Regions from separate parts of the Homo sapiens genome. Here all the other regions are linked to region 3. The links come from fine-mapping of genetic effects on gene expression. A gene starts in region 3. Each other region holds a variant in brackets. All regions are shown on one strand. Distances are between the middles of the regions. Region 1 has its middle 14 kb from the start of WDR20. Region 2 has its middle 26 kb from the start of WDR20. Region 3 holds the start of ZNF839 (zinc finger protein 839).

Evidence for each region. PIP is the estimated chance that this variant, and not a neighbour inherited with it, causes the effect. A credible set is the group of variants that fine-mapping cannot tell apart.
Region 1: its variant is the best candidate, but not a certain one, in a credible set for the expression of ZNF839 in whole blood (TOPMed, PIP 0.62).
Region 2: its variant is the best candidate, but not a certain one, in a credible set for the expression of ZNF839 in whole blood (INTERVAL, PIP 0.81).

What each region holds. Positions count from the first base shown.
Region 1 is chr14:102,120,516-102,131,195 of GRCh38, reverse strand. It overlaps a transcript of HSP90AA1 not described here. Among named protein-coding and RNA genes, the nearest start is that of WDR20, 14 kb to the left of the region's middle. The variant T/C (reference allele first, on the strand shown) is at 8,367.
Region 2 is chr14:102,108,271-102,118,950 of GRCh38, reverse strand. It overlaps a transcript of HSP90AA1 not described here. Among named protein-coding and RNA genes, the nearest start is that of WDR20, 26 kb to the left of the region's middle. The variant C/T (reference allele first, on the strand shown) is at 3,002.
Region 3 is chr14:102,315,115-102,325,794 of GRCh38, reverse strand. ZNF839 (zinc finger protein 839) reads right to left here and starts at 6,049. Exons shown (of 8, transcript NM_018335.6): 1 at 5,742-6,049. The coding sequence starts at 6,029. TRI-AAT5-4 (tRNA-Ile (anticodon AAT) 5-4) reads right to left here and starts at 8,703; the gene lies at 8,630-8,703. RefSeq lists enhancers at 5,430-5,539, 8,914-9,013 and silencers at 5,640-5,829, 5,890-5,989.

The DNA.
Region 1 (10,680 bases), 190 kb after region 3:
GAGCATGTTTTGAAAGGAAGATCAGGAATTCCGTTTTTCACATGTTGGGTATGAGATATCAGGCATTCACAGGGAATGTCCAGAAGGCAGTTGAATAATCAAGTCTGGAAAGAGGTCTGAGCTGCCCATCTGTATTCTGCAGTTATCAGCAGATAGGTAGTATTTAAAGCCTGGATAGGCTGGGCATGGTGGCTTATGCCTGTAATCCCAATACCTTGGGAGGCTGAGGCAGGAGGATCACTTGAACCCAGAAGTTCAAGACCAGCCTGGGCAATATGGTGAGACCTTGTCTCTACAAAAAAAATTTAAAAATTAGCGTGGTGGTGTATTCTAGCAATCCTAGGAGGCTCAGGCAGGAGGATCACTTGAGCCCAGGAGGTTGAGGCTACAGTGAGCTGTGATTGCACCACTACACTCCAGCCTGGGCAACAGAGGGAGACCCTGTCTCAAAAAAACAAAAATTAACTCAGAATGAATTAAAGACCTAAATGTAAGAATTAAAACTATAAAACTGGAGCTATGATCACACCACTGCACACCAGCCTGAGCAACAGAGCAAGACCCTGTCAAAAAAAGAGAATGGACAAAGGATCTGAATAGACATTTCTGCAAAGTTACACAAATGGCCAGGGAGCACGTGAAAAGATTCACAACATTATTAGCCATCAGGGAAATGCAAATTAAAACCACAAGGAGATGTCACTTCATATACACTAGGATGGCTATAATCAAAAAGATAAACAATAACAAGTGTTGGTGAGAATGTGGAGAAATTTAAACCCCCATGTACTGCAGATAGGAAGGAAAAGTAATATAGCCAATATGGAAAATAGTCTGGCAGTTCCGTAAAAGTTTCAACAGTTACCATAGGACCCAGCAATTCCAATCGTATGTATATACCCAAGAGAAATCAAAACATATTCACACGGCCGGGCGCAGTGGCTCATGTCTGTAATCCCAGCGTTTTGGGAGGCCGAGGCAGGTGGATCATGAGGTCAGGAGTTCGAGACCAGCCTCACCAACGTGGTGAAATTGCGTCTGTACTAAAAATACAAAAATTAGCCAGGTGTGGTGGTGCGGGCCTGTAATCCCAGCTACTCAGGAGGCTGAGGCAGGAGAATCGCTTGAACCCAGGAGGCGGAGGTTGCAGTGAGCCGAGATCACACCATTGCACTTCAGCCTGGGCGACAGAGCGAGACTCCATCTCAAAACAAAACAAAACAAAAAAAAAATTTCACACAAAAACTTATACGTGAATGTTCACAGCGGCATTATTCAAAATAGCCAAAAAGTGGAAACAAACCAAATGCCCATCAACTAATGAATGGATAAACAAAATGTGGTATATCCATACAATGGAATATTAATCAGCTATGATAGAAAGGAATGTAGTTGTCGGGCGTGGTGGCTCACGCCTGTAATCCCAGCACTTTGGGAGGCCAAGGCAGGCAGATCACATGGTCAGGGGTTCGAGACCAGCCTAGCCAACACGGTGAAACCTCGTCTCTACTAAAAAAATACAAAAATTAGCTGGGAATGGTGGCGTGCACCTGTAATTCTAGCTACTCGAGAGGCTGAGGCAGGAGAATTGCTTGAACCCGGGAGGCGGAGGCTGCAGTGAGCTGAGATCAAGCCACTGCACTTTAGGCTGGGCGACACAGCAAGACTCCAACTCAAAAAAAAAAAAAAAAGGAATGTAGTATAGAGACAGAAAGTAGATTTGTGGTAGCCTAGGGATGGGGAAATGACAGGGAAGGAGTCGTGACTGCTAATGAGCCCAGGGTTTCTTTTAGAGGTGATAATTGCACAGTTCTGAATATACCAGAAACCACTGAATAATAGTCGTTGGGTGAATTATATGTGCAGTTAAAAAAAATCAAACCTAGCCAGGTGGGCGTGGTGGCACATGCCTGTAGTAATCCCCTGTAGTAATCTCGGGAGGCTGACAGGAGAATTGCTTGAACCCTGGAGGCAGAGGTTGCAGTGAGCTGAGATTGCCCCACTGCATTCCAGCCTGGGCGACAGAGTGAGACTCCGTCTCAAAAAAAAAAAAAAAAAAAAATCAAAACTAGAGCCACTCTATCTATAGTGCTCAATTTATTTTTCAAACAGCTGCTAAATTATCCAGGCATAACTACTTATTAGGTTGTTTGAACTGTACCTGGTAAATGGAACTGTTAGATTTTTCTATTGGTCCAGGGAGCGCCATAAAGAAATTCTGAAACACTAAGGGCTCTGAGAACCAAGAAAACTTGGGAATCACCGTAAGGCATAAACCTTTCTCATTTCTTACCTTCCAACTTATACCTCCCTTCTTATCTCTATCTGAACCCATTCTTATTCTTCTAGGTTAAAAGAAGAAGTACCTCTTCTCTTCTTTTCTTTCTTTTTTCTTAAGATGGAGTGTCGCTATATGGCTCACGCTGGAATGCAGTGGCATGATCTCAGCTCCCTGTAACCTCCGCCTCCTGGGTTCAAGCAATTCACTGTCTCAGCTTCCTGAGTAGCTGGTACTACAGGCATGCACCATCACACCCGGCTAATTTTTTTTTTTTTTTTTTTTTTCCGAGACGGAGTTTTGCTCTTACTGCCCAGGCTAGAGTGCAATGGTGCGATCTTGGCTTACTGCAACCTCTGCCTCCTGGGTTCAAGCAATCTCCTGCCTCAGCCTCCCGAGTAGCTGGGATTACAGGCGCCCGCCACCATGCCCAGCTAATTTTTTGTGTTTTCAGTAGAGATGGGGTTTCATCATGTTGGCCAGGCTGGTCTCGAACCCCTGACCTCAGGTGATCCACCCACCTCGGCCTCCCAAAGTTCTGGGATTACAGGCGTGAGCCACTGCGCCCATCCTAATTTTTGTATTTTGGGTAGAGACGGGGTTTCACCATGTTGGTCAGGCTGGTCTTGAATTGCTGACCTCAAGTGATCCACCCACCTCGGCCTCCCAAAGTGCTGGCATTACAAGTGTGAGCCACCGTGCCCAGCCACCTCTTCTTTTCAAGATCAATTTCTCCACCATGTTCTTGTAACAAATTCCTGGTCTCCTCTAGGACACCCTGCTCCAGCAGCAAGTTACTGTTTCTCCTGGGCAGACTCCCACACTGCACTGCCTCCTCCCATGTAGTATGAGCCTGCTGAGCAAAGAAGAGAGCAGCACAGAAGAACCAATGTTCATTTCTGCTTGAGAGTTTGGCAGTGTGTTGGTAATTGTTAATAGAATTGCTTCTTTCTCCAATTAAAAACAAAACATGGCTGGTGTGGTGGCTCACACCTATAATCCCAGCACTTTGGGAGGCCGAGGCAAGAGGATAGCTAGAGCCCAAGAGGTCACAACCAACCTGGCAACATAGCAAGGCCCTGTCTCTATAAAAATAAGGTTAGCCAGGCGTGGCAACACACACTTGTAGTCCCAGCTACTCGGGAGGCTGAGTTGGGAGGATCGCTTGAGCCCAGAAAGTTGAGGCTGCAGTGAGCTGTGTTCATAACACTGCATTCCAGCCTGGGCCACAGAACAAGACCTTGACTCAAAAAATGTATGTGTATATATATAATAAAACAAAACACCTCTGCCTATTGCTTACTGTCTCCAGTCCCAGCCTTGAAAGAGTCACAGCTGTCTCCTACCCCCTCAAATAAATATAACTCCATGTGTGCTATTTTAATTATCTTAGACTCTAGGGATAAGACTGAAATGTGGGTTCCAAACCATAGTAATAAAGGGAAAATACAGGAAGAAAATAAGAGAACTGTCATAAGGCTGGGACATTCTGCCTCAGTCACAGAACTAATTGAATTATTACAGTATGTTAGAACTGAATTCAAATTAGGACATCACTTTTTGTAGATAGAACTCATGCTAGCTTTGTTTTTCATTGTTAAGCTCCTCCAGTAAGAAGTAAAACAACAGCTTATCCAAGCAGCTTAATGAGCATTGTGGGTTTTATCTTTGCAAAGATTAGAGCAAGGACGTTCAAGCTTAATAGCCTCAATAACAGTTCCTAACTTTTTTCTATCTGAGATCCTGAAACAGGAAAGATGAGATTTTTTAAAGAGCTAGTATGCTATATGTAAAGAAAAAATTAACTTGTTACTTATATATAATTATAAGTACTTATTGGGAGGAGGCTATGAAGAGGTGATTTAAAAAAAAAAAAAAAGTACTTCTCACTCTCTGAAGAGCCTCATCAGCATTATTGGCCTTTTGAGAAGCAGCCAGTAAAACAGTGATTTTTAGCCATAGATTGCTGTAAAGTAGTAGCTGGGGCCTGTGGCAGGAAGTAAGATTCATTTGTTAATTTAAAAATTCATTTTAGGAGTTACTGATTGGGAAAACAAAAACACAGTTTATGATATTAAAAGAATCTAGTCGGCCGGGCGCAGTGGCTCACGCCTGTAGTCCCAGGACTTTGGGAGGCCTAGGCGGGCAGATCACGAGGTCAGGAGATCGAGACCATTCTGGCTAACACCGTGAAACCCCATCTCTACTAAAAGTACAAAAACAAAGTTAGCCGGGCGTGGTGGCGGGCGCCTGTAGTCTCAGCTACTCTTGAGGCTGAGGCAAGAGAATGGCGTGAACCCGGGAGGCGGAGCTTGCAGTGAGTCGTGGTTGCGCCACTGCACTCCAGCCTGGGAACAGAGCGAGACTCCGTCTCAAAAAAGAAAAAAAAAAAGAATCTAGTCGAGGATGCAGTCAGTATCTACCCATTTAGACTCCGAGTTTCTTGAGAGGAGGAGCCATTCTTTTTCCGCTTTAAGAATCCCCTAAGATATTGCTAAGCACATAGTAAATAATCAACACATACTGAATTGGATTTCTAGTTTGTTCCTCTTCCATCTTCTTCATATTTTTGCGTTTTGTTTTTCTCTTTTCCTGGTGTTTCCATGTCCACGTGTCCCCTTACTGAGCTATGGTAACTTGTAGTTCCTCATACCTGTCACACCTGTGCTTTCATGCTTTTGCATAAGTGAGATTCCCTTTCCTCTCTGTTCATCAGAGGGAATAGAAGGCCGCTCATCCCAGAAGACTTCACTCCAAAAATCACTCCTGCCTGGTATGCTCTCTGCTTATTCATCCCTCACTTTTCAACTTAAAGGCTGCCTTCTCAGAGAGGCTTTCCCTGAGGCCCCAAATGTAAGTTATGTCACCTTATTTTCTCATGGAATTATTTCCCGTATAGCACTTAGCACAATTTCTAATAATATATACATCATACACACACATATTTATATGTTTTCTTAAATAAAAGCCACCTCCCTCAGTAGACCGTAAGCTTATAATAGGGATCCTGCCTATTTTTGTTTGGCATGTCGTGTGTAGATTGGGGCCTGACATTCAATAGGTACTCAATACACACTTGCCAAATGAGTGACTCACCTTTGAGAAAGATTCTCTTTTAGCACCTTATGTTAATACTTAACTTTATTATGACATTTATTACATTGCTGTCTCATCTCACTAGGTTGTTCGCTACACACGATTGCAGTTCACAGACTTAAAAATATGCTCATGCATGCTTTCTTTTCTTATACCTTCCCCCTGAGGTTAAACTCTGCCTTAGGTCACATTACTCATGCTTTCAGAAAGCTCTGCTTCTAGCTTTCTGAGCGGGGGAGATTCAGCCCCTTGTTTATTTTATGTATTTGGCTTTCAGGTAAATATCTACTTAGCATGCCCATTGTTCACTCACTTCCTTAGTCCCAGCTCATTCTGCTTCCCTCTTCCTAAAAAATAACAAAAACGAAACACTCCTGTCCTTGGAGAATAATTTTTGCATATGGTCACATTTCAGTTTAGTAGGATAGAATATTGAATTTGCTGGATAGGTTTTAACATTGCAAGAATTATCAACTGGGTTTTTATTGTGGCTCTAGATCTGTTTGTTGGGATAAGAAAAGATTATGAGGTTGGGCACAGTGGCTCATGCCTGTAATCCCAGCACTTTGGGAGGCTGAGGCAGTCGGATCACTTCAGCCCAGGAGTTGGAGACCAGCCTAGGCAACACAAGGAGCCCCCATCTCTACAAAAAATAAATAAAAATTAACTAGATATGGTGATACATGGCTATAGTCCCAGCTACTTGGGAGGCTGAGATGGGAGGATCGCTTGAACCCAGGAGTTTGAGGCTTCAGTGAGCTGTGATCACACCACTGAACTCCAGCCTAGGCAACAGAGTGAGACTTCATCTCAAAAAAATAAATAAAGATTATGAATGTGGGCACTGAATGATTTTTCTTTTTACCATGTCTTTCTCATCTATAGCAATGCTTTATAGATTGTTGGTGCTCAATAACTATTTAGTGGATTGAATATATACTCAAAAAAGAGCACTGGACTTAAGGTCAAAAGACATAACATAAATTCTATTCATGATCACATTATTTAATATTGTGACAGTATAGTACATAAAAGTTTTAAATGAAATTATTATTTATATATGATTAGATGTTGGAAATCTAAGAGGATCAACTGAAGAACTGTAAGAAACAATAAGAAGCCAAGCATGGTGGTATACACCTGTAATTCCAGCTAATCAGGAGGCTGAGGCAGGAGGATTGCTTGAGGCCAGGAGTTCAAGTTTACATTGTGAATCATGATAGTGCCACTGCACTCCAGCCTGGGGGATATAGCTAGACTCCCATCTCTAAAAAAGAAAAAAAGAAACAATAGACAATGTAATATAGCAGATTTAAAAAGTAGCATTCAGGCCAGGCACAGTGGCTCACACCTATAATCCCAGCACTTTGGGAAGCCAGGGTGGGCAGATCACCTGAGGTTAGGAGTTCAAGACCAACCTGGCCAACATGGTGAAACCCCCACCTCTACTAAAAACACAAAAATTAGCTGGGCATGGTGGCGAGCACCTGTAATCCCAGCTATGTGGGAGGCTGAGGCAGGAGAATCACTTGAACCCAGGAGGCAGAGGTTGCAGTGAGCCCAGATCGTGCCATTGTGCTCCAGCCTGGGAGACAAAGTGGAACTCCATCTCAAAAAAAAAAAAAAAAAAATTAGCATTCAAACATCAATAACTGTCTCTACTTTCTCTGTCAAATAGTAACTAATTTAAGTATAATGGAAGAAAATGTCACATTCACAATAACAAAATAAGATAAATAGGCTGGACGTGGTAGTTTCCGCCTGTAATCCCAGCATTTTGGGAGGCAGAGGCCAGGAGTTCATGAGGAGCCTGGGCAACAGAGGGAGGCGCCATCTCTTCAGAAAATTTAAAGATTAACCAGGTGTGGTGGCACACACCTGTAGTCCCAGCTGCTGGGGAGGCTGAGGTGGGATCATTGCCTGAGCCCAGGAGGTTGAGGCTGTAGTAAGCCATGTTTACACCCCTGCACTCCAGCCTAGGTTGGCAGAATGAGACCCTGTCTCAATTAAAAAAAACACGGTTGCTAGTATACATCTCACAGGGAAGTGGGGGGTGCCTTTAATTTCATTGACTGCAGTGTGAATGGTGCCCCCTGAGATGAACCACACAGTTTCTCTGAATATATTTAGAACATGTTCATAAACTATCTGGACATAGTGGCTTATGCCTGTAATCCTAGTACTGTAGGAGACCAAGGCGGGAGGATCCCTTGAGGCTAGGAGTTTGAGACCAGCCTGGACAACATAGTGAGATGCAATCTCTTAAAAAAAAAAGAAAAAAAAAACCACAAGGTTTTAGAAACTACTTGAAGAGCACTCTTAAATTCTGAAGAAACAAAATAATTAAAACACCTCATTCTTAGGTAACAAGACTCAACATTGTAGAAATGACAGGGTTTTTTGTTTTTGTTTTTGTTTTTTGTCTTTCTTTTTTTAGACCGAGTCTCGCTCTGTTGCCCAGACTGGAGTGCAGTGGTTGTGATCTTGGCTCACTACTGCCTCCCAGGTTAAAGCAATTCTGCCTAACCCTCTCAAGTAGCTGGGATTACAGGGGCCTACCACCACGCTCGGCTAATTTTTTGTATTTTTAGTAGAAATGGGGTTTCACCATCTTGGTCAAGCTGGTCTCGAACTCCTGACCTCAGGTGATCCACCCACCTTGGCCTCCCAAAATACTGGGATTACAGGCATGAGCCACTGTGCCTGGCCAAAATGACAGTTCTGTCTGGATCAGTGTGTAAGTTGAATTCAGGCCAAATCAAAATCAACAGAATTTTATTTACAGTTTGTCAGAATTATTCTAAGTTTCATTTGGAATAAGCATTTAAGAATCACTATGAAAAAGAAGAGTATTGGCTGGGCGCAGTGGCTCATGCCTATAATCCCAGCACTTAGGGAGGCTGAGGCGGGTGGATCACCTGAGGTCAGGAGTTCGAGACCAGCCTGGCCAACGTGGTGAAACCCCGTCTCTACTAAAAATACAAAAATCAGC[T/C]GGGCATGGTGGCAGGCACCTGTAATCCCAGCTACTCGGGAGGCTGAAACAGGAGAATCGCTCGAACCCAGGAGGCAGAGGTTGCAGTGAGCTGAGATCGAACCCTTGCGCTCCAGCCTGGGCAACAGAGTGAGACTCTGTCTCAAAAAATATATATAAAAAATAAAAAAAAGAAAAAGAAGAGTAATGGCAGGAGTGGAGTGGGGGGACTTGCCTCCCAAATATTAATATGTATTATAAAACCTCTTAAGCTGGGCACAGTGGCTCACGCCTATAATCCCAACACTTTGGGAGGCCGAGGCAGGTGGATCACAAGATCAGGAGATCAAGACCATCCTGGCTAACACAGTGAAACCCCGTCTCTACTAAAAACACAACAAAATTAGCCGGGTGTGGTTGTGGGCACCTGTAGTCCCAGCTACTCGGGAGGCTGAGGTAGGAGAATGTTGTGAACCTGGGAGGTGGAGCTTGCACTGAGCCAAGATCACACCACTGCACTCCAGCCTGGGCGACAGAGCGAGACTCCGTCAAAAAAAAAAAAAAAAAAAGTCTTTAAACAGATCCTTTTCCTAAAATGGAATAAGTACAGAATTAGACCCCAATAAAAATGGACATATGATAGAGATGGCAGGATTAATTTAAGAAGAGGTATTGGAACAACCAACTAACCATTTATAATTTTAAAATTGGATTCCTACTTCCCTCCTCACTCCAAAATAAACTCCAGATAGAGCAAAGATTTTAATATAAAAAATAACCATAAGAGAAAGAAATGACTTGAATAAATATATTTATAATCTTGAAGTGAGGAAAGCTTTTCTAAACATAGCCCAAAATTCAGAAGCCATAGGATATTTTTATTTTATGTCTTGCATGGCACAAGACACCATATGAAAAGACAACAACCTTGGAAAAAATATTCACAACACATATGGCAAGGGATTAACATCCTTAATAATAAAAACTTATTTCGAGCAATTAGAAAGAAAACCCAGTAGAAAAAAATAGGCAAAGGACATAAGCAAGCAATTCACAAAAGTTGCATTCATTAGGATTTTTGTTGATGACTTCTGAGTTTCCTGTCATGCCTAGAAAGAATTTCCCCACTCCAGGGTGCTCATTGTTTTCTAATAACTAAAGAAATGCAAATTGAAACTATTTTTTACTATCACATTGGAAAATATCAATTATCAATATAAAATTGATAATAGTGTTAGCACAGATGTTAATGTTGGCACAAGTATTAAGAAACAGGATGGGTTCACATACTTGGTGAGAAAAAAAACAGGCATTTTGATTTTCCATTAGTGAGAATGCAAGTTGCTGTTATTTATTTGGAGGGCAATTTGATCATTTCTGTCAAAATACTTATTGTAGTTATGTGATTTGACTCAACTCAAGTTCTAGGAATTTACCCGCATAAATGTACAAAGATTATGTGTATAAGGATTTTCACCAAAGCATTGTTCTTAATAGTGAAAAATTGGCAATAATCTAAGTACCCATCAATAGAGAATTCAATAAATAAATTATGGAAATGACATACTTTACAGCTGTTAAACAATGAATTCATAAACTTACATATACTGACATGAAAACATATCCAAAATATATTAAATGAAAAATACAGGCCTGGTGTGGTGGCTCACACCTGTATCCTAGCACTTTGGAAGGCTGAGGCAGGAGCATCAATCATTTAAGCCCAGGGGGTTGAAGCTGCAGTGAGTCATGATCACACCATTGCACTCCAGCCTGGGCCACAGAGCAAGACCCTGTCTCAACTTTACGTGTGTGTGTGTGTGTGTGTATGTGTGTGTGTGTGTGTGTGTGTATGTTGCAGATTAGTATGTATAATATTTCATTTTCTGAAAAGCAGAAATTTTTTTTTTTTGAGACTGAGTCTAGCTCTTGTTGCCCAGGCTGGAGTGCAGTGGTGCAATCTCAGCTCACTGCAACTTCCACCTCCTGAGTTCAAGCGATCCTCCTGCCTCTGCCTCCTGAGTAGCTGGGATTATAGGCGCCCACCGCCACGCTAATTTTTGTATTTTTAGTAGAGATAGGGTTTCACCATGTTGGCCAGGCTGGTCTTGAACTCCTGACCTGAGGTAATCGGCCCGCCTCAGCCTCCCAAAGTGCTGGGATTACAGGTGTGAGCCATCGCACCCGGCCTAAAAAGGTAAAATTTGTATATACCTATAACAAAATAGGTTTTATTAAACTCTGAGTTTGAGAACTGACTTCATTACTTACTAACACTTTCACTTTTTAGAGAGTAACCTCTCTAAATCTATTTTCTTGTGTTAAAGTTAGAGTA
Region 2 (10,680 bases), 210 kb after region 3:
CCTGGGAGGTGGAGGTTGCAGTGAGCCGAGATTGCACCACTACACTCCAGCCGGAATGATAGAAATGAGACTTTGTCTCAAAAAAAAAAAAAAAAAGGAAGGAAAAGCAAGAAGAGTCAGAGGAATTCTAAAAAGAATGTATGGGGAGGGGTAGGCAGGGGAATCAGCTCTGTCAAATATTAAAATATATAACAAAACATGTAGTTGTTGCACAGGCATGTATAGAACAGAATGAGAAATCCAGAAACAAACTCAAATACACCTAAGAATTTTGTATGTGATTTTTAAAATGTTATTAATATTATTTAAAATCTGTAGGTAAAAGATGAATGTTCAATAAATAGGATTAGGATTGCTGGGTAATCATCTAGGAAAGTGGATGAAAGATTAAAATATAAAAAACAAAAAGTGACCGGGCATGGTGGCTCACACCTATAATCCCTGCACTTTGGGAGGCTGAGGTGGGCAGATCGCTTGAATCCAGGAGTCCAAGACCAGACTGGGCAACATAGACCCCATCTCAATTAAAAAAAAAAATAAGTAATAGAAGTAATGAAGGGGAGACATTTTTAATCTCAGAGTATGGACATTCTTTCTAATATGACACAAAATTTGAAAGCCATAAAATAAATCGTGATCACATTAAAAAGTGGTTTTTTATCTGATAAACCACTATAAGTGTTGCAGGACCTTAGGGGTTATCATTTTTCTGGCTAGAAACCTCTGTGGCTGGTGGCACCCTTGTCTGAATTTTGCTTGGGCTCACTGGGCTCATTCTGCCCATTCAGCCTGGCAGGCTGTGCTTGGCTCATGCTACCAGCCTGGATCCTATGCCTCCAGGGGAGTCTGTAAGTCAGGCATGGAGCAGTGAGGGGTGTATGAACGAGCGTGGAGTCCAGCCACTGTGCAGTCAGACATGCCAGCTGCTGCCATGGAGCAGGCAGCTCCAGGTGCCAGCACAGGCAATGGCTCTCTACAAGGCTGCAGCTGGACCAGGGACATCGCAAGCAGCTTCCCCAGCTGGCACTGGGGAATGCAGTGGTGCCTAGAAGCTTGGAGACACCAGGAACTGCAGGGCCCCAAAGAGAGACTCAAAACCCTGGCTCAGGGAGCTCCCAGGTCTCCCAGGTCTGGGCTTCCCAAAGGGCCACAGCTCTTCTCTCCTTCTCTTCGCCCGCAACGTGGTGAGCAGTGGGCATGTTTTAACCCTGTTTGTGTTACAGTTCTTTTAGTTTCGCCATTCGGTGGGTCCTGAGTTTTTGTCCTGTGAACAAGAAGAATGAGGTATGCAGACAAGTGAAGGGTGAGCAAGATGAAGAGGAGCTTTATTGAGTGGTAGAACCGCCCCGAGGAGACCTGGAGGAGGTAGCTCCTTTCTGCAGCTGGGGGGTGTTCAGCTCCTAGCAAAGAGGGTAGCTCCTCTCTGCTAAGCAGGTCATCCCGAGGAGTGTTTAGCTCCTAGCGTGGAGGGTAGCTCATCTCTGCAGCTGGTCATCCTGTCTTCAGCTCTGCTCTGGCTGAGTCCTGGGCTTTTATGGGCCTCAGAGGGGAGGAAGTGCACACTGATTGGTCCATGGGTGGCCATAAGTGGGCCTGGAAAAGGCACCACAAATTCCCACTCCAGTCCATGGGACTGGCAACCTGGCCCCCAGCCTTCAGGCCCTCCCTGGCCTGAAGGTGGTGCTTCACTGGGGACCCACCCCTTTCCACCCTGGAGCCGGTCTACTTCCTACAACTTTTCACGGCACCCAGGCTGTTCCTGCTGAGGGGTGCCTGCAGGCCAGTGCCGAGCTGCCCTTAGCACCCCCCTTGGCGTCTCTCCCATGCTCCTCATTACCAAAAGTCCAAAGAGGGAGGTTGACATGTTAGTGCTGCACTGAGCGGGTGCACACCCAGCCAGGCTGGGACAGCGCCCAGGCTCAACCCCCATGCCACTCTGAGATCGGAGTGGGTGCCAGGAGTGGGGAGAGGCCAGGCAGCAGAAGCAGACACCCCCAAGCCTGTGCCCTGAGGGCACAGAGTGCAGAGATGCCCAGATCCTACACCTGGGAGGGTGGGGCTCCCACCACTGCATGGAGCTTGCAGGCAGCCTGGGGCAGGGGCTCCAGGTCCTCAATGGGCCCCTTTCTGCCTGCCCACCCCATGCCCAACTGCTTCTCTGTGCCCAGCCCCATTGTGGCAGCGCCCAGGGTGGTGGGTTCTGTGGAGGGCAGGGAGTGTTGGGGAGGGTCCAGCTTGTCCCTGGCTCCTGCTGGCTCTGTGGTTCATGGAACTGCCCCAGGCACAGCTCTACCTCCTCCCCATGCCCTCTCCGCAGTGGCAGTAGGCTAGAGTGGTGACACGGGGCCAGGGTCCAGAGCAGCAGAGGCTCCAGGCCTGGGAACAGGTCTCACCTGACCATGCAAGGGTGGGGGCAGCACAGTCACCTGCCTCGGGAACGTGGAGCACAGGGGACCCACTGCCACCATTCCTGCTCCCGCAGCTGCCCCTGCCGCCACTGCTTGCACCTCCCCGCTGTGGCTGGTGCAGTGGCCACTGCCATGATAAGCAAGATCAACAAACAACAAACTGGAAAAAGAATAAAGGACTCCTAGAAATCAATAAAAGAAAGGCTAAAAATCTAATGGACAAAGGATCTGAGCAAACAGGAACAAAACAGAAACACAACTCTCTCCACCATTAAAAGATGCTCGGTCTTGGCCGGGCACAGTGGCTCATGCCTCTAATCCCAGCACTTTGGGAGGCCAAGGTTGGTGGATCACGAGGTCAGGAGATCGAGACCATCCTGGCTAACACGTTGAAACCCTGTCTCTACTAAAAATACAAAAAAAATTAGTTGGGCGTGGTGGCGGGCACCTGTAGTCTCAACTACTTAGGAGGCTGAGGCAGGAGAATGGTGTGAACCCGGGAGGCAGAGCTTGCAGTGAGACGAGATGGCACCACTGCACTCTAGCCTGGGCGACAGAGCAAGACTCCATCTCAAAAAAAAAAAAAAGATGCT[C/T]GGTCTTAAACTTAAGAAAAATACAAATTAAAATAACAGTTAAGCTGGGCTCAGTGGCAGGTGCCTATATCCCACCCACTCAGGAGGCTGAGGCAGGAGCTTCAGTTGAGCCCAGAAGTTCTAGGCTAGCCTAGACAACATAGGGAGACCCCATCTCTAAAAAATTTTTTTTAGAATCAGATAAATTTTTCTTTTTTTTCTTTTTAAGACAGGGTCTTGCTCTGTCACCCAGGCTGGAGTGGAGGGTCACAATCATGGCTCACTGCAGCCTTGACCTCCTGGGCTCAACTGATCCCACCTCAGCCTGCCACAGTACTGGGATTACAGGCGTGAACCACTGTACCTGGCTAAATATTTTCACAGTCAAAAAGTTTGATAACTGTTTACAAGGTATTAGGAAACAAATATGCATATTATTGCTGTTGGTGTAAAACTGTTACAAGCGCAACAGAGAACAATTTGGCAATAACTAATCAAAATCTAAAATGTACGTACTCTTCAATCCAGCAATCTCACTTCTTGGAGTTTATCTTACATAAATCCTTGCAAATCTAGATTCCTAGATTCCTTCTCCCATCCTAGCAGAAGTCTAAGGTTTATTTTTTGTAAAAGTAAAACACAGAGTTGTTTTGTTTGTTTGTTTGTTTGTTTGTTTTATGAGATGGAATCTTGCTCTGTCACCCAGACTGGAATACAGTGGTATGATTTTGGCTCACTCTACCTCCCGGGTTCAAGGGATCCTCTTGTCTCAGCCTCCCTAGTAGCTGGGGCTACAGGCATGCACCACCACACCCAGCTAATTTTTTTTTTTTTCTTGCTCTGTGGCCCAGGCTGGAGTGCAGTGGCGCCATCTCGGCTCACTGCAAGCTCTGCCCTCTGGGTTCACGCCATTCTCCTGCCTCAGCTTCCCGAGTAGCAGGTGGGACTACAGGCGCCCGCCACTACACCCAGCTAATTTTGTTGTTGTTGTTGTATTTTTAGTAGAGACGGGGTTTCACCGTGTTAGCCAGGATGGTCTAAATCCCCTGACCTCATGATCCACCCACTTCAGCCTCCCAAAGTGCTGGGATTACAGGCGTGAGCCACCATGCCTGGCCAATTTTTTTAGTTCTAGTAGAGATGAGGTTCCAACATGTTGGCCAGGCTGGTCCCAAACTCCTGACCTCAGGCGATCTGCCCGCCTCAGCCTCCCAAAGTGCCGGGATTACAGTCAGCAACCGGGTCCGGCCTAAAACAAAGAATTTCTATACAGGGAATACTAGGCCAAATTAAGGCAAGAGTAGTCTCTTGAAAATGGGGATTACGTGAGTGTGTGATTACTGAATGCTGGAATAATCCCCTGCCTTTTCTCTCCACTGGGCTTTCAAAACACTGGCACCCAAATCTTTACTCTCCATGCAGAAATTTTAGAAGACTCTTTTCTGGAGAATCTGACAATCCCCAGGATATAGGTTTAAGAGGTTTCCCAACAAATTGCCCATGTAGAATACCCTGCAGTGAATCTCAAAGTCTAAAAATCCTGTAAACCATGTGCTCAGATCTTCCAAATGGCTTTTTAGTCCTCTACTCTTAGTCATAAGCAGACATCCAAGGATTATCATACATCTGAGAAAAGCCTCTAAACGTGACTTAGAGATCAAAATAAATGACATGGCCAGGTGCAGTGGCTCACACCTGTAATCCCAGCAATCTCAGCACTTTGGGAGGCCGAGGTGGGCGGATCACTTGAGGTCAGGAGTTCAAGACCAGCCTATGCAACATGGTGAACCCCATCTCTACTAAAAATATAAAAATTAGCCCAGTGTGCTAGCGCACGCCTGTAGTCCCAGCTACTCGGATGACTGAGGCATGAGACTCTTGAGCCTGGGAGACATGAGATCATGACTCTGCATGACAGAGTGAGACTCTGTAACAAAAAATAAATAAATAAAATAAATGGGGGCGGGGTGCAGTGGCTCACGCCTGTAATCCCTGCACTTTGGGAGGCCAAGGTGGGCAGATCACGAGGTCAGGAGATCGAGACCATCCTGGCTAACATGGTGAAACCTCGTCTCAACTAAAAATAGAAAAAATTAGCGGGGCATGGTGGCAGGCGCTTGTAGTCCCAGCTATTCCAGAGGCTGAGGCAGGAGAATGGCGTGAACCTGGGAGCCAGAGCTTGCAGTGAGTCAAGATCATGCCACTGTACTCCAGCCTGGGCGACAGAGCGAGACTCCGTCTCAAAATAAACAAATAAATAAATAAAAATAAAAAAATAAAATAAATGAGTATGCCTGGTGCGGTGGCTCACGCTTGTATCCCAGCACTCTGGGAGGCCAAAGCAGGCAGATCACTTGAGGTCAGGAGTTCCAGCCTAGCCAACATGGTGAAATCCCGTCTCCACTAAAAATACAAAAATTAGCCAGGCATGGTGGGGCATACCACACCTGTAATCCCAGCTACTCGGGAGGCTGAGGCAGGAGAATTGCTTGAACCTGGGAGGCGGAGGTTACAGCAAGCCAAGATCACAACATTGCACTCTATACTTCACTCCAGCCTGGGTGACGTAGTGAGACTCTGTCTCAAAAATAAATAAATTAATTAAAGAAAGAAAGAGAGAGAGAGAGAGAAAGCAAGCAAGCAAGCAAGCCGGGCGCGGTGGCTCACACCTGTAATCCCAGTACTTTGGGAGGCCAAGGCGGGCAGATTGCCTGAGGTCAGGAGTTCGAGACCAGCCTGGCCAACATGGTGAAACCGTGTCTCTACTAAAAATACAAGAATTAGCCAGGTGTGGTGGCAGGCACCTGTAGTCCCAGCTACTTGGGAGATTGAGGCAGGAGAATCGCTTGAACCCGGGAGGCAGAGGTCGCAGTGAACCAAGATCGCACTACTGCACTCCAGCCTGGGCAACAGAGTGAGACTCCATCTCAAAAAAATAAATAAATAAATACAAACAAAACAAATGACACAAATGAACAGAAAAAATAATATTGAAGAAAACAGGCTGTACAGGGAGATGCGAATTTACAACAAGTGCTAATATTAGTAGTTTAAATAGATATTGCATCTATGAAATAAGAACGGTCTGCATTCTTGTAAAAAACTTAGGAAAATAAAAAACCTCTTGAATATTAAAAACTTAACAGCAGAAATTAAAATGCTAGAAGGGTTGGAAGAGAAAGTTGAAATCAACTGGGCACAGTGGCTCACGCCTGTAATCCCAGCACTTTGAGAGGTAAAGCCAGGAGGATGCCTTGAGGCCAAGAGCTCAAGACCAGCTTGGGCAACATAGTGAGACCTCCATCTCTACAAAAAAATTTAAAACTTAGCTGCACATGGTGGTGTGTGCCTCCAGTCCCAGCTACTCAGGAAGCTGAGGTGGGAGGATCTCTTGAGCCCAGGAGTTCAAGATTACAGTGAACTATGATCACACCACTGCACTCCAGGCTAGGCAACAGAGCAAGACCCTGTCTCTTTTAAAACAAAAAAAAAGGGAGAGCCAGGCACGGTGGCTCACGCCCGTAACCCCAGCACTTTGGGAGGCTGAGACAGGCAGATCATAAGGTCAAGAGATCAAGACCATCCTGGTCAACATGGTGAAACCCCATCTCTACTAAAAATACAACAAAAATTAGCTGGGTGTGGTGGCGGGCACCTGTAATCCCAGCTGCTCAGGAGGCTGAGGCAGGAGAATTGCTTGAACCCAGGAGGCACAGGCTGCAGTGAGCCAAGATCGTGCCAGTGCACCCCAGTCTGGGAACAGAGTGAGACTCCGTCTCAAAAAGAGAGAGAGAGCATATAATAGAAGACCACCTAGAGAATCTAAGAGGTCCAAACTCCAAACACTGTAGGAGGAAATTATCCACAAAATCTTCAAGTAAAATTTCCAGAACTGAAGAACATGAGTTTACAGAGGGGATGAGCCCACCAAGTGTCCAGCAGAATGGATAAAAATAGATCTATACCAAGGTACATCACTTTGAAATTTTAGAACACTTGGAATAGAAAAGATCCTACAAGCTTCCAGAGAGAAGAAATGTCATATAAAAGGGATCAGTAATCAGAATAGCTTGACTTGTAAACACCACCACTGAAAACCATAACACAAGTAGGAAAAAAAGCTCTTTTATGCTATCTTGATGTATCTTTGCCTCTGTTGTTCATTGATGGATCCCAAGTGCCTAGAGGCAGTGCCAGGCATGTACTAGAGTCTCAGTAAAAATTTATTGAATGTAAGAGAACAATTGAGAAATGGCTTCAAAATTCTGAGGAAGTATTTATTCCAGCTTATAACTAAACCAATATATCACTCAAGTATGAGTTTAGAATAAAGATATTGTGGGACATGCAGGGTTTCAATTTACCCTCTTTGTGCCCCTTCTCAAGAAGCTGTGAAAGGATATGCTTTGTTTTGGGCCAGTTTCTCCCATTTGGAAGGGGTGTATTTACCCAATGCCTGTACCCCCATTGTATCTAGGGAACATGAAAAGGGAAATCTAGGCAGAGGTTCCCAAACCTCAATTCTTGACTTCCATGCACCTGCAGGCTCAGTACCATGTGGAAACTGCCAAGGCTTGGGGCTTGCACCCTGTGAAGCAATGAGCTGTTCCTTGGCCCCTTTTAGCCATGGCTGGAGTGGCTGGGACTCAGGGCACCAAGTCTCTAGGCTGCACAGAGCAAGGGGGCCCTGGGCCCGGCCCATAAAACCATTTTTTCCTTCTAGGCCTCCAAGCCTGTGATGGGAGGGGCTGCCGTGAAGACTTCTGATATGCCCAGGAGACATTTTTCCCATTGTCTTGGGAAATTAACATTCAGCTCCTCGTTACTTAAGCAAATTTCTGCAGCCAGCTTGAATTTCTCCTCAGAAAATGGGATTTTCTTTTCTAGTGCATTTCCAGGCTGCAAATTTTCCAAACTTTTATGCTCTGCTTCCCTTATAAAACAGAATACTTTGGCTGGGTGCAGTGGCTCATGCCTGTAATCCCAGCACTTTGGGAGGCAGAGGCAGGTGGATCACCTGAGGTAAGGAGTTTGAGACCAGCCTGGCCAACGTGGCAAAACCCCATTTCTACTGAAAATACAAAAAATTGGGCTGGGCGCAGTGGCTCACGCCTGTAATCCTAGCACTTTGGGAGGCAGAAGCGGGTGAATCACGAGGTCAGGAGATCGAGACCATCCTGGCTAACACGGTGAAACCCCATCTCTACTAAAAAATAGAAAAAAATTAGCCGGGCGTGGTGGGGGGCACCTGTAGTCCGAGCTGCTCGGGAGGCTGAGGCAGGAGAATGGCGTGAACCCGGGAGGCGGAGCTTGCAGTGAGCCAAGATCGTGCCACTGCACCCCAGCCTGGGCCACAGAGCAAGACTGTCTCAAAAAAAAAAAAATTATCCGGGCATGGTGGTGGGCGCCTGTAATCCCAGCTGCTTGGGAGGCTGAGGCAGGAGAATTGCTTGAACCCGGGAGGCAGAGGTTGCAGTGAGTCGAGATTACACCATTGCACTCCAGCCTGGGCAACAGAGTGAAACTCTCTCAAAAACAAACAAACAAACAAACAAACAAACAAACAAAACTGAATGCCTTTAACAGCACCCAAGCCACCTCTTGAATGCTTTGTGGCTTAGAAATTTCTTCCACCAGGTACCCTAAATCATCTCTCTCAAGTTCAAATTTCCACAAATCTTTAGGGCAGGGCAGGAGCAGAATGCCACCAGTCTCTTTGCTAAAACGTAACATGAGTCAGCCGGGTGCGGTGGCTCACACCTGTAATCCCAGCACTTTGGGAGGCCAAGGCAGGTGGATCACAAGGTCAGGAGTTCGAGACCAGCCTGGCCAATATGGTGAAACCCTGTCTCTACTAAAAATACAAAAAATTAGCCAGGCGTGGTGGCAGGCACCTGTAGTCCCAGCTACTCAGGAGGCTGAGGCAGAAGAATCGCTTGAACCCAGGAGGCGGAATTTGCAATGAACTGATATTGCACCACTGCACTCCAGCCTGAATGATAGAGCAGGACTCCATCTCAAAAAAAAATAAAATAACGAGTCACCTTTGCTCCAGTTCCCAACAAGTTCCTCATCTCCATCTGAGACCATTTCGGCCTGGATTTCATTGTCCATATCATCATCGGCATTTTGGTCAAAGCCATCCAACAAGTCTCTAGGAAGTTCCAAACTTTCCTACATTTTCCTGTCTTCTTCTGAGCCCTCCAAACTGTTCTAACCTTTCATCATTACCCAGTTCCAAAGTTGCTTCCAGAGTTTTGGGTTATCTTTTCAGCAGTGCCCCACTCTGCTGGTAACAATTTACTGTATTAGTCCATTTTCATGCTGCTGGTAAGGACATACCCAAGACTGGGAAGAAAAATAGGTTTAATGGTCTTACAGTTCCACATGGCTGGGGAAGCCTCACAATCATGGCAGAAGGCAAGGAGTAGCAAGTCATGTCTTACATGTATGGCAGCAGGCAAAGAGAGAGCTTGTGCAGGGAAACTCCCATTTTTAAAACCATCAGATCTTGTGAGCCTTATTCACTATCATGAGAATAGCACAGGAAAGACCCACCTCCATGATTCGGTTACCTCCCACCAGCTCCCTCCCACAACATGTAGGAATTGTGGGAGTTACAATTCAAGATGAGATTTGGGTGAGGACACAGCCAAACCGTATCAGGGATATTCAACTTGGAACTACTGTTACATACAACATGGATGAATCCCACAGACCTAATGCTGAGTGGACATAGCCAGACATGAGAGTACGTATTGTGTAATTCCATCTGTATGAAGTTCAGAAATGGACAAAACTAATCAATGGTGTCAGAATGTTGGTTATCTTTGAGGGAGATATTGATAGGGAAGAAACATAGGGAGCCTCTGGGGTGCTGGAAAGTCTGCATCTTGAGCTGGGTGTTGGCTGTAAAAGTGTATCAAGTATTACACTTAGGATTTAGCACTTTATGTAAATTATACCTTAATTTAAAAAGTTAAAAAATTCAGCTGTCCAATAAAAATTAAAATAAATGAAATGCAATCCACATAGCCCTGCTAAAGTCAGGAAGAGAATGACCACTATCTCCACTACTGTTCAACAGTGTATTGAAAGTATTAGCCAAAGCAATCAGATAAGAGTTACAAATGAGGGGCTGGGCTCAGTGGCTCACACCTGTAATCCCAGCACTTTGGGAGGCCGAGGTGGGTGGATCATGAGGTCAGGAGTTCAAGACCAACCTGGCCAACATGGTGAAACTCCGTCTCTACTAAAAATACAAAAAATTAGCTGGGTGTGGTGGCAGGCACCTGTAATCCCAGCAACTCCAGAGGCTGAGGCAGGAGAATCGCTCAAACCCAGGAGGTTGAGGCTGCAGTAAGCCAAGATCACGCCATTGCACTCCAGCATGGGCAACAAGGGCAAGACTCCATCTCAAAAAAAAAAAAAAAAAAAAAGTTATAAGTTAGATGTGTAAAAATTAGAAAAGAGAAGTTAAAAGTTTTACTATTTGTTAATGATAGGATCAATATTTACAAGGCCCAAGAAAATCAACTAAAAAACTGCTATTAATAAAACAATTTTTAAAAAAAGAATTCAAAGCTAGGCACCATGGCACAAGGCTGTAGTCCTAGCTTGAGGTATGAGGATTGCTTGAGTCCAGGAGTCCAAGTCCAGCCTGGGCAACAGAACGAGGCCCAATTTTTTTTTTTTTTTTT
Region 3 (10,680 bases):
AGCTGGGCTTGGTGGCTCACACTTGTAATCCCAGCACTTTGGGAGGCCAAGGCAGGCCGATTACTTGAGGTCAGGAGTTCGAGACCAACCTGGCCAACATGGTGAAACCCCATCTCTACTAAAAATACAAAAATGAGCTGGGCGTGGTGATGCACTCCTGTAGTCCCAGCTACTCAGGAGGCTGAGGCATGAGAATCGCTTGAACCCGGGAGGAGGTTGCAGTAAGCTGAGATCGCACCACTGCACTCCAGCCTGGGCAACAGAGTGAGACTCCATCTGAAAAAAACAAAAACAAAAACAGAGACCACAATGATACATTTTACATTATGACCTAGTACACGTGTATATAAATATCTGCATACATAAATAAAATAAAGTTGATGGAACTACTTACCATCCCTATATAAATGCCCGCTGATTGTATCTATTCTACATCATTTTTTTTTTTTTTTTCTGAGATTAGGGTCTCACTCTGTCACCCAGGCTAGAGTGCAGTGGTGCGATCTCAGTTCACTGTAACCTCTGCCTCCCAGTTTCAGCGATTCTCTCATCTCAGCCTCCGGAGTAGCTGCCACCACACCCAGCTAATTTTTGTATTTTTTGGTAGAGACGGGTTTCACCATGTTGGCCAGGCTGGTCTCAAATTCCTGACGTCAAGTGATTGATCCACCTGCCTTGGCCTCCCGAAGTGCTGGGATTTCCAGCGTGAGACACCACGCCCAGCCCTATTCTACATCACTTTTTAAAAAATACTAGTCATAATCCACTAAGTTGATTTCATGACCAGTGAAGAGATAAGAGCCTTCCTAACAGTTTTACCCATGTGAGGTTTTTCTTTTTCTTTTGAGACGGACCCTTGCTCTGTCGCCCAGGCTGGAGTGGAGCGACACTATCTTGGCTCACTGCGACCTCCGCCTCCCGAGTTCAAGCAATTTTCCTGCCTCAGTCTCCCAAGTATCTGGGATTACAGGCACGTACCACCACGCCCCGGCTAATTTTTGTATTTTTAGTAGAGACAGGGTTTCACCATTCAGGCTGGTCTCGAAATCCTGACCTCTGGCGATCCACCTGCCTCACCACACCCGGCTGGCTTTTTGTTTGTTTGTTTTTTTGAGATGGAGTCTCGTTCTGTCGCCCAGGCTGGAGTGCCACCACAACCTCCACTTCCCAGGTTCAAATGATTCTCCTGCCTCAGCCTACTGAATAGCTGGGATCACAGGTGTGTGCCACCATGACCAGCTAATTTTTTTTTAAGATGAAGTCTCGCTCTGTGGTCCAGGCTGGAATGCAGTGGCGCTATCTCAGCTCAGTGCAACCTCTGCCTCTCAGGTTCAAGCAATTCTCCTGCCTCAGCCTCCTGAGTAGCCCTGATTACAGGCGCTTGCCACCACACCTGGCTAATTTTTGTATTTTTAGTAGAGACGGGGTTTCACCATGTTGGTCAGGGTGGTCTCAAACTCCTGACCTCATGATCTGTCCGCCTCAGCCTCCCAAAGTGCTGAGATTACAGGCATGAACCACCGTGCCCGGCGTTACCCATGTGTTTTTGCTTGGAGTTTTTAGTACTCTAAAAGCAGACGTAATTCATAATGTGGGCCCATGTTTTTTAAAAAGTTTTTAATGAAATTCTGGAAGCGACAACAAAGCCATAAGGAACAATGTTACCCAGCTTCCTACTGCACAACCTGCATGCCTGTTTCTTCACCCTGTCCTGAATGTGCTGTTTAGCATTCTTATGATTTTAAAAATTTATGTGGCATATGCAGATATTTCTAAAAATATATAGTTCAGTTCTGAAATGTTTTTAAACTTTATATAAATGATATCATCTCCTGCAACTTGAAAGGGCTTTTCTGGGTTTCTTTACTTCATTTTGCTTCGTGAATTTTATCCACATTAACATGGGTAGGTGTCACGGGTTCATTTTCTCTGCAGTATGAGTACACCAGTCTCCTATTGATGGACAGGTGGTTTCCAACCTTCTGTTCCTAAGTTCTGCTCTGAATCTTCACGATGTATGTGTATACATGTGTGACTTTCTCCAGGGGCATGTACCTAGGCGTAGGGCTGAGTATCTTCAATAACTTTTTACAAATATATCTAACAAAATTTCAAATACATGTGCTTTTTGACCCAGTAATTCCATTTCCTGGATTCTATAAAAAAAACACGCAGGTGGCCACAAAGATGTTCTGTTCTACGAAGTTCAGGGCAGCACTGTCTATAATAGCAAAACACCTACCAAAGGGGAGAACTACCTTCAATAACACCCCACAAATATTTATTGAGCACTGACCGCGTGCCAGAAACACTGTTACAGGTGTCAGGGAAACAGCTGTCTTACAGCTTAGGGGAGAAGGACGGGGAAGCAAAAGAAACAAGGCTCCCGCCCTCACAGAGCAGAAATAATGAGCACTTTCCTCCAGGGAGAAAAAGAGGCAAACCTCATCATCCAGAGCACGATTTCCCAACCAACATTTCAGAACATAATCCTTTGACATGGGTGGCTGGAGGATGGCCAGCAGCATCTCTGCCTCTACCCACTAGATGCCAGTAGTGATCCCGAGTCCTGACAATGAAGACATTGCCAAGTGCCCCCTGTGGGGCAAAACTGCCCTCGGTTGAGAATCACTTATTTGGGACGACCAACTGGCCCTCTTTGGACTCAACCTTCTGGTGTGACCCTCAAACAGTGGAGCATCAACAAAAATGTCACACAGGACAGAATAAAGATCCTCACTGAGATCAAGCTGGAGTGTGTCTCTCGTCTGTCTGTTATACTAGTACAAATAGCAGAGGTCAGCCAACACTTTGTATGAAGAATTGTAGAGAGGTGGCACCATAGCCCTGGGAGTCCCCGACTCCTGGGCTACTTGTGAAACAAATGACAACGAGATTGACTGCGCATATCCTTCAAGAACCCCATCTCTTTCATTTTACTGCCAGTCACACCTGTAATCGCAGTGCTTTGGGATGCTGAGGCGGGAGGACTGCTTGAGGCCAGGAGTTCAGGGCCAGCCTGGGTAACATAGCGGGACCCTGTCTCTACAAAACATTTTTAAATTAGCCAGGCATGATGGTGCATACATGTAGCCCCAGCTACTCGGGAGGCTGAGGTGTGAGGATCATTTGAGCCTGGGAGTTCGAGGCTGTAGTGAGCCGAGATCAGTCCAGCCTGGGTGAGAAAGAAAGACCCTGTCTCAACAAAACCCCAAAACAAAAACATAATACATATACATACATACACTAAACCCTACTGTTTGAGGATAACCACAGCGGCAAAGCCAGACTAATAATGTATTTATCCTCTATCCTCACTGGCTTACCCTGTGGGTATTATGCTTGATACTTTGTTTAGTTAATTCAGCTAATGTTAACTCAGTATTTCTGGGTGGAATACATACACAGGAGCCAAGTCCTAACCTCACCCTTGAGATGGGGGCGGTTTCCCCTGCCATACCTCAGTCCCCGCAGACCTGCTGAATCGGATCTCCTGGGGTGAGGCCCCAAGATCTGCCCTTTCAAAAGCTCCACTGATGATTCTGAAGGCAGACAAGCTTCCCTAAGGAATGCAGACAGGTGAGGCAGACAGGAAAAATGTCATCATGGTACAACAGGTGCAATCAAGAGGCAGGAACAGCCCAGAGGTGGTGGGCTGCCCAGAAGCTGTGATCTCTGAGGGGCATTTTGAAGGCTGGGAATTTTTGCCAGGTGAAAAAGGGCACACATCCATGTGTAAATGCACGGATGCATGAAAAGGGGCACAGCATGTTGGATGGAACTGGAAATTTCTGTGGGGTGGGGAAGAGGGAGGATGGGGAGAGACAGGGGCCTCGATCTGACCCAAGTGTGTCCATTGGTCTGTGCTGCTGATCCACACCACCCCCACAGCGAACACTGGGCCTTCTGCTGTGGTTGTTGAAATGCACCCCCAACCGCCCCAGAACCTGCCTCTCCCCTTCTGCATTTTCAACTCAGACGCACCCTTTCAAATCTAGTTCAGATACCACTTCTTCAACAAAGCTGCTTCTGATGTCCTCAGCCAGGAACAATCTCCCTTTCTCTAAATACATTCAGTTCTTTTTCACTATCTTTAGCTTTCTGGCCTTGACTAGAAGTTATCTGGGTCTTGTTTCATCTCCTGTTAGTTCATAAACTACTGAGGGGCAAAGTACGCATCCGGTTTGCCTTTGTGGCCTCCATGACACAGCTGGGGCTGAAAGAGTATTAAAAGAATGTGCTGCAAAGGTATATTATTGCAGGTAGAATTTATATCGTCTCCATTAGATTAGCTACAAAATACAATCCCATCATGCTGCCTAAGCTCGAATAAGTTTGCTTTTGCTTTACGAAAAATATGTCATTTTTGGATTCCAAACCCAAAAAGCTGTGGCCATATTCAGCAGGGTATGGTGAGGAGTACAGGGGCTAGGGAGAGCAGCCACACCTGAGGGACCTTGGGCAAAGCCACGCAACCTCCCTGAGCTTGTTTCCCACCTGCAAAATGCCGGTACAAAAACACTGCTGAAAACTGAGCGGCCCCGCACAGCGCCGGGCGCAGAGCAGAGGCTTTGCAGATAGCTGCCCCCAGATGGCACCTTGCAGCCTTCTGACCCAGACCAAAGTCCAAAAAGGTTGACTTACCCAAGGTCACACCTCTAGATAGTGATAGTGTGGCATCTGGACAGAATCACACTGGTCTTCCTAAACCTTAGCAAGACAACTCTCCAGTCTTGATGATTAACTGGATACAACCCTAAGCAGCTAACATCAGTCAAAAAAACTCAACGAGTGAAGGTTCCTGATTCTATTCCCTAACCCGTTTCTTCTAGTGGAAAAAGCTGTCTTCTTTTGGCAATTTTGGGGTGAGACTAATTTTGTTTACAACCCCAGCGCTGAAATGGGGTGGAATTTTACAGATGCCGTGTAGGCCCTCTGGCTTCAGGCGCTATGCTTCACCCTCCGGAGTTGGGCGACCGTCTTCTAGTTATCACCCCCCTAGCAACCAAAAGGTGTGTGGCCCAGGAAATAAACCCACTGGGAAAGGATGTTTTGTAGTATACAGAGTGCTTTCACATATTCCAAACATTGTGTATCAGGCACTGTGCTGGGTACTGCGGTTACAAATCAGTCACTATCACCCAGGATGTTAAGTCCTGCAGCGAACTAGTGTATTGTGCTTGACTTTGTTCCAAGCCTGGGCCTTGGCACCTTACAACTGAAAAGCTAAGTTGGTTCCTTTTAATTCATTTATGTTTCAGCTCCAGTGTCTGGCCTACGGGACCACCCACTCTAAAGCAGCCCCCGTCAATCCCAGAACCTGCCTTATGTTCGTTCTTCAGCAAGTGTGTTCAAGGCTTCACCTCCTGCACATAGTGGGGAGTGCTGGGAACACGGTCTCTAAGTGCTCCACAAAGGCTGAACCAGCGGTGAAAGGCCTGTAAGAAGAGCTAGGGAGCACGCAAAAGCCCCCAGCAGGGCTGTGAAGGCAGAGAAGGCACGAGGGCGTTCCAGGCACAGGGCCCAGCGTGAGCAACCGCTCCTAGAGTGAGGCTCCTGGGGTGAAAATGCCAGGGTGGTGACAGGTGGGGGCCGAACGCCGTCCCTAAGAAGCTCAGCCTGGGGACGCCCTGAGTCTTAACCCGGGCGGATACTGGCCTCCCCGGACAAGCAGCTACCCCGCCGCGGGGCGTCGGCCCCCTTCGGGCCTCAGTTTCCCCACGTCCCTCCCGACGCCTCACCTGGGGCGGGAGCAGGCGCGGCAGGCGCGGGGGCTCGGTGCCCCGGCCCCGCTGCAGGGCGGCCTGTTGGGCCGCGTCCCGCAGCCGCCGCGCCGCGTCCCGCAGCACGAAGGGGGGCGGCGGCGGCGGCGGCTGCGCCTTCGTCACCTGCTCCAGGACCTGCCGCAGCTGCTCGGGGCCCAGCGGGGCCACACGTGCGACGCTGCCGCTCTGGCCCGGAGGAGCCGGGCCGCCGCCGCCGCCGCCATCCTCGCTGCCGCCCCCAGCCTCCGGCTCCGCATCCGCCATGGCGGCCGAGGCGGGGACTCGAACCCGGGTCGCTGAGCGACGGCGTCTCCAATGTACGTCACCTAGGAGAGGGGCGGGCTACGAGTGCCTCGCAGGCCAAGACACCTAGGAAGGCGACCGTGTCTGGCCGGGAAAGTCGTGGAGTGCCCCGCCCCAGCCGACAACCGCCGCGGCTCTTAGGGCTGATCAGCAGAGCGGACCCCCCTTATTTTCCTTATTGCCTGTCACGGATGTGTTTAAGACTCACCTTCTCTGGGAGCTGTCCCGGATCTCCCAGGGGGAGGTCTTCGGGGTTTCAGAGCCCCTGGCCCAAAAGTTACCACAATATCCAAGTGTTCTGACGTCATCATGCATCCGAATCAGCGGAGGATGCTGTCTGGAGATGCAGAGTACTGTGCCCACCCCTAAACATTTGGATTTATACATCTGGGAGGGGACCACAGTTTGAATTGTTAACGAGAGTGTTTCCCAAATTTTTGCCTTGTCACCGTAGCTTCTCTCTACCCACCCACCCAGATTGGGTGCACCTTGAAGGGAGAGATGATATATTACACAATCGGTGCCCAGCACAGGCCCTGCCCAGAACACAACGCACGCTCAGGGCATGAATGATGGATGGATGAATATGAATAAACGAATGAGTGAACGAATGAATGAACCCACCCTCTCTCTATCCATCCAGCTCCACTGCCCCATCTTCCTCAGCCTGATCGCCTCTCCTTCTTACGGTTGAGGCTCTGTGCGCCCTCCGAATCTTGTAGCTGCAGGTGTGTACACATGTCCCAGCTCCTTTCCCCAGGGAGAGCAGGAGGTCCACTGGTCCACAAACCCTTCTTAAGCACCTGGTGGGTGAACCGCTGTTTCCGCCCTGGGGGGTATACAGTCTAGGTGCCGACCCCCAAGGAGGAAACTTCCCAAGGGGGAAGGAGGAAACTGGCATTTGCAGCACAGTATGATGAGCGCCGAAGCCGGTAAAGTAAGGCTGGCGGCCTGGGTGGCGTCAGAGAAGGTTCTGGAAGATCACCACCATCCTCATCAATACTCACATTGCATTCACGATGATCCCTTCCGTGTTATTTTTTAATGGTGAATTTTATATTATGGGTATCTTACCACAATTTTTTTTTTTTTTTGAGACAAGATCTCACTCTGTCACCCAGGCTGGAGTGCAGTGGCACAATCTCAGCTCACCGCAACCTCCATCGCCTGGGTTCATGCGGTTCTCCTGCCTCAGCCTCTTGAGTAGCTGGGATTACAGGCGTCCGCCACCATGCCTGGCTAATTTTTGTATTTTTAGTAGAGACGGGGTTTCATCATGTTGGTAAGGCTGGTCTTGAAACCCTGACCTTAGGTGATCCGCCCGCCTCGGCCTTCCCAAGTGCTGAGATTACAGGTGTGAGCCACCACACCCGACCAGATTTCAGGAATTCACATGCCTTCTGCTCAAAATAATTTTCATGCCACCGTGGCATATTCTAAACCCCTTCAAGCTCAGGAAACTTGAGGGCAGCAACCTCCACCGATTCCTCCATGCTGTGTCCCTGCATCTAACAACGTGCCTGGCACGACTATTAAAAGATGTGACATCCATCCTGTGTACAGATGTCTATTTTAAGTGTCAGCTGCCCCAGGCTCTCCTAACTTTGCTTATAATAGCAGCAGCGCCATCGGCTGGCATTTATTGAGAACTTTTACTACACCCTGGGCACATACCAAGGTCTGTAGATGTTGAGCTGCTTCTTATTTAGGTCAGAACTAGTAGCTGTTTCCACTGTAGAATTTTCAAAAACAGGTGGAGCCCTTGCCGGATCCTGACATAAAATGGCATCAACCTTATACAACCGGCTTTTGTTCAGCTGAGCACACCTGACCACCCTAGAAACGAACCGAGTGAGAAATTCATCCACTTGCTCTGGCTTCAAAATGTAGAACCAAGAGGAAGAAATGTGAAGCCTAAGATGTCTCCGAAAAGAAAAGAGGGGGGACAAAAAGCAAGAGAAGGTTTCCAGAGGCTTCCACAACCTGAATGCCTCACTAAAAACATGGCAGTCATCTAGTGGCTGGTCACTGTCTCCAGCGGGTTGGGGTTTGTGTCTCACCGTTTTGCTCCCAGCCTAGGAATGGTGCTGGGCATGCAGTAGCTCTCCATATGCATCTGTGGAATGCATTCATTCCAGACCTGGATTTTCACCTCCAAGACTTCCCCGCAAGTGGGCCCAGGGAACACTAGGCGGTGATATCTGCGAGCACCTGTCTTCACTGGGCGGTTCCTCCAGGCCAGACGCAGCCTCAGGAAACGTGGGGGGTGGGGGCGTGGGATGTGCATCGGTTGGATGTCCAGAGTGTCCTTTAAAACGACAAAAGTAAAAGGCCTAACCAATGGCATTCTAAAACAGACCCTTCAGGTGGCGGCGCGGGGACTCGGGGTGAGGAGCCACCGCCCCAGCGCGCTCTGAGTTCCTCCCGCTCTCCCCAGCAGGTAGCCTTGGATAACCTCTGGGCCAGTCCAAAAGATTCCGCAGTTCTCTCCTGCCTGCACGCCGGTTACAGTATCAGAAAGGAACATTGCGGGGACCAAAAAAAAAAAAAAAAAGTTAGCCTGGCCCGTACGGGGATCGAACCCGCGACCTTGGCGTTATTAGCACCACGCTCTAACCAACTGAGCTAACCGGCCGCCTGACGTTGGGCCCCCACGGGAGCGCCTAAGAGGGCTCCAAGCCCGCGCCCGCCCCCTAGCGACTCCCTGCCGGGCCGGCGCCGCTGGCTGCATTCCGCTTCGCCACAGCCGCGACTTCCGACCTCTTCACAGTCATCCCCATTGGCCCGATGCAGAAACTAAGACTTAGGGGACTTCAAGGAGAAGGGAGGCGACTCCCTACAGCGAAGGCGGCTTTTTTTCACAGGAAAAATGCAAATTGCACATGGGAGGCTTAGCTCCGCAGTGAGAAGGTTTTCAAACATGCCAACTCAGTGTTGTTTTTATCTCCGAGAATCCTGCAGCGTGGAAACTTCGTGTAACAGAGGCCTTTAGCATGGTTAAATCAAGCTTGGAAAATACAGAAAACCGGACAAAAGAACCACCGAATTCCCTATCGCCCAATAAACAAGGGCCGCTGGGGTCTTGGCTTCCTTCCTGCTGGTTTTTTTTCCTACAGTACACGTGTATTTATACACACACACACACACACACACACACACGGAATCCAAAGCCTTGTATGAAGCAGTCTTTTTTTTGAGACGGAATCTCCCTCTGTCGCCCAGGCTGGAGTGCAGTGGCGAGATTTCGGCTCAATGAAGCAGTCTATTTTTTATCTTTCTTTTTGCATTTAATATTCTAGAATAAGCATATCCCTAAACAATTGCAAATGTCACTTTAAATGATTTCTCAGTGTTTCATTGAGTGGACAAACCACCATGGCTTTCTCCTTTTTTTTTTTTTTTTTTTTTTAGTGTCTGTAAAAATGTTTTCATTTTGCTCTCTCTCTTGTTAACTGAGCACATAAATAAATCACATGGTACAGGCAGAAGGGTTGAAACAGCCACTGAGTAGGCAACGATGGTACCCACCCCTAAAAGCGTAGGATCTGTATGCAAAAAAAGAGAGAGAGAAAGAAAAGGCTGGGAAGACAAACCACCACCGTGTCCACCACCCAGCCTGCATGTCCCAGAGGCCTACTGTTCTCCTACAGGGCCTGACTATGGTGTGCTGCGTGGCCCTCCCACTCCAGGAGCACCAGCTTTTTTTTTTTTGAGACAGAGTCTCGCTCTGTCACCCAGGCTGGAGTCCAGTGGTGCAATCTCAGCTCACTGCAACCTCTGCTTCCTGGGTTCAAGCGATTCTCCTGCCTCAGCCTCCCAAGTAGCTGGGACTACAGGCACGCGCCTTGTCCGGTTACTTTGTGTGTGTGTGTGTGTGTGTGTGTGTGTGTGTGTGTGTGTGTGTGTATTTTTAGTAGAGATGGGGTTTCACCATGTTGGCCAGGCTGGTCTCGAGCTCCTGACCTCAAGTGATCCGCCTGCCTCGGCCTCCCAGAGTGCTAGGATTACAGGCGTGAGCCACCGCATCGGGCCAGCTTTTTAACATTATACATTCTGCTCTGATTACTCCACTAAACTGCTTGGACTGAGGTATCGTCAGGGTTCTATGTCACAAGCAGCAGAAACCGAGTCTAGCTGATTCGAAAAGATTTTATGTAAAGGATGTTAGGTAGGTCACCCTCCACGAGTAAGGCTAGAGGACCAGGTTTAGAAAAACGGACACTCAGTGAAGACATACTCATTCAGCCCGGCAGTGCCCTGGCCCCCAATCAGCTGTGAGTCAAAGAAACCTAATCCCCATCCTGATGGAGCTCTCCGCATAACAAGGAAGGCGGATATTATAGGGAACGGAGAAGATTAGGTGGTGTGCTGGGAGGCTGGGCAAGCGTCCTGAAGTCTGGAGCACTTTACTGTGTCCAAAGGACAAGGATAGATGAGCAGGCCAAAGGGGTAAAGCCCTCTCACAGAGCACTGGTGGGGGTGCAGGCATCCTGTCCATTTTGCTTACAGCTGAATGAATGCCCAGAACCTAGCACACTCTCTGGCATAGCAATAGGTAAGAGTCACATGGGTTTAAAACAGTCAGATCAAGTCATTTCTCTGCTCACACTCT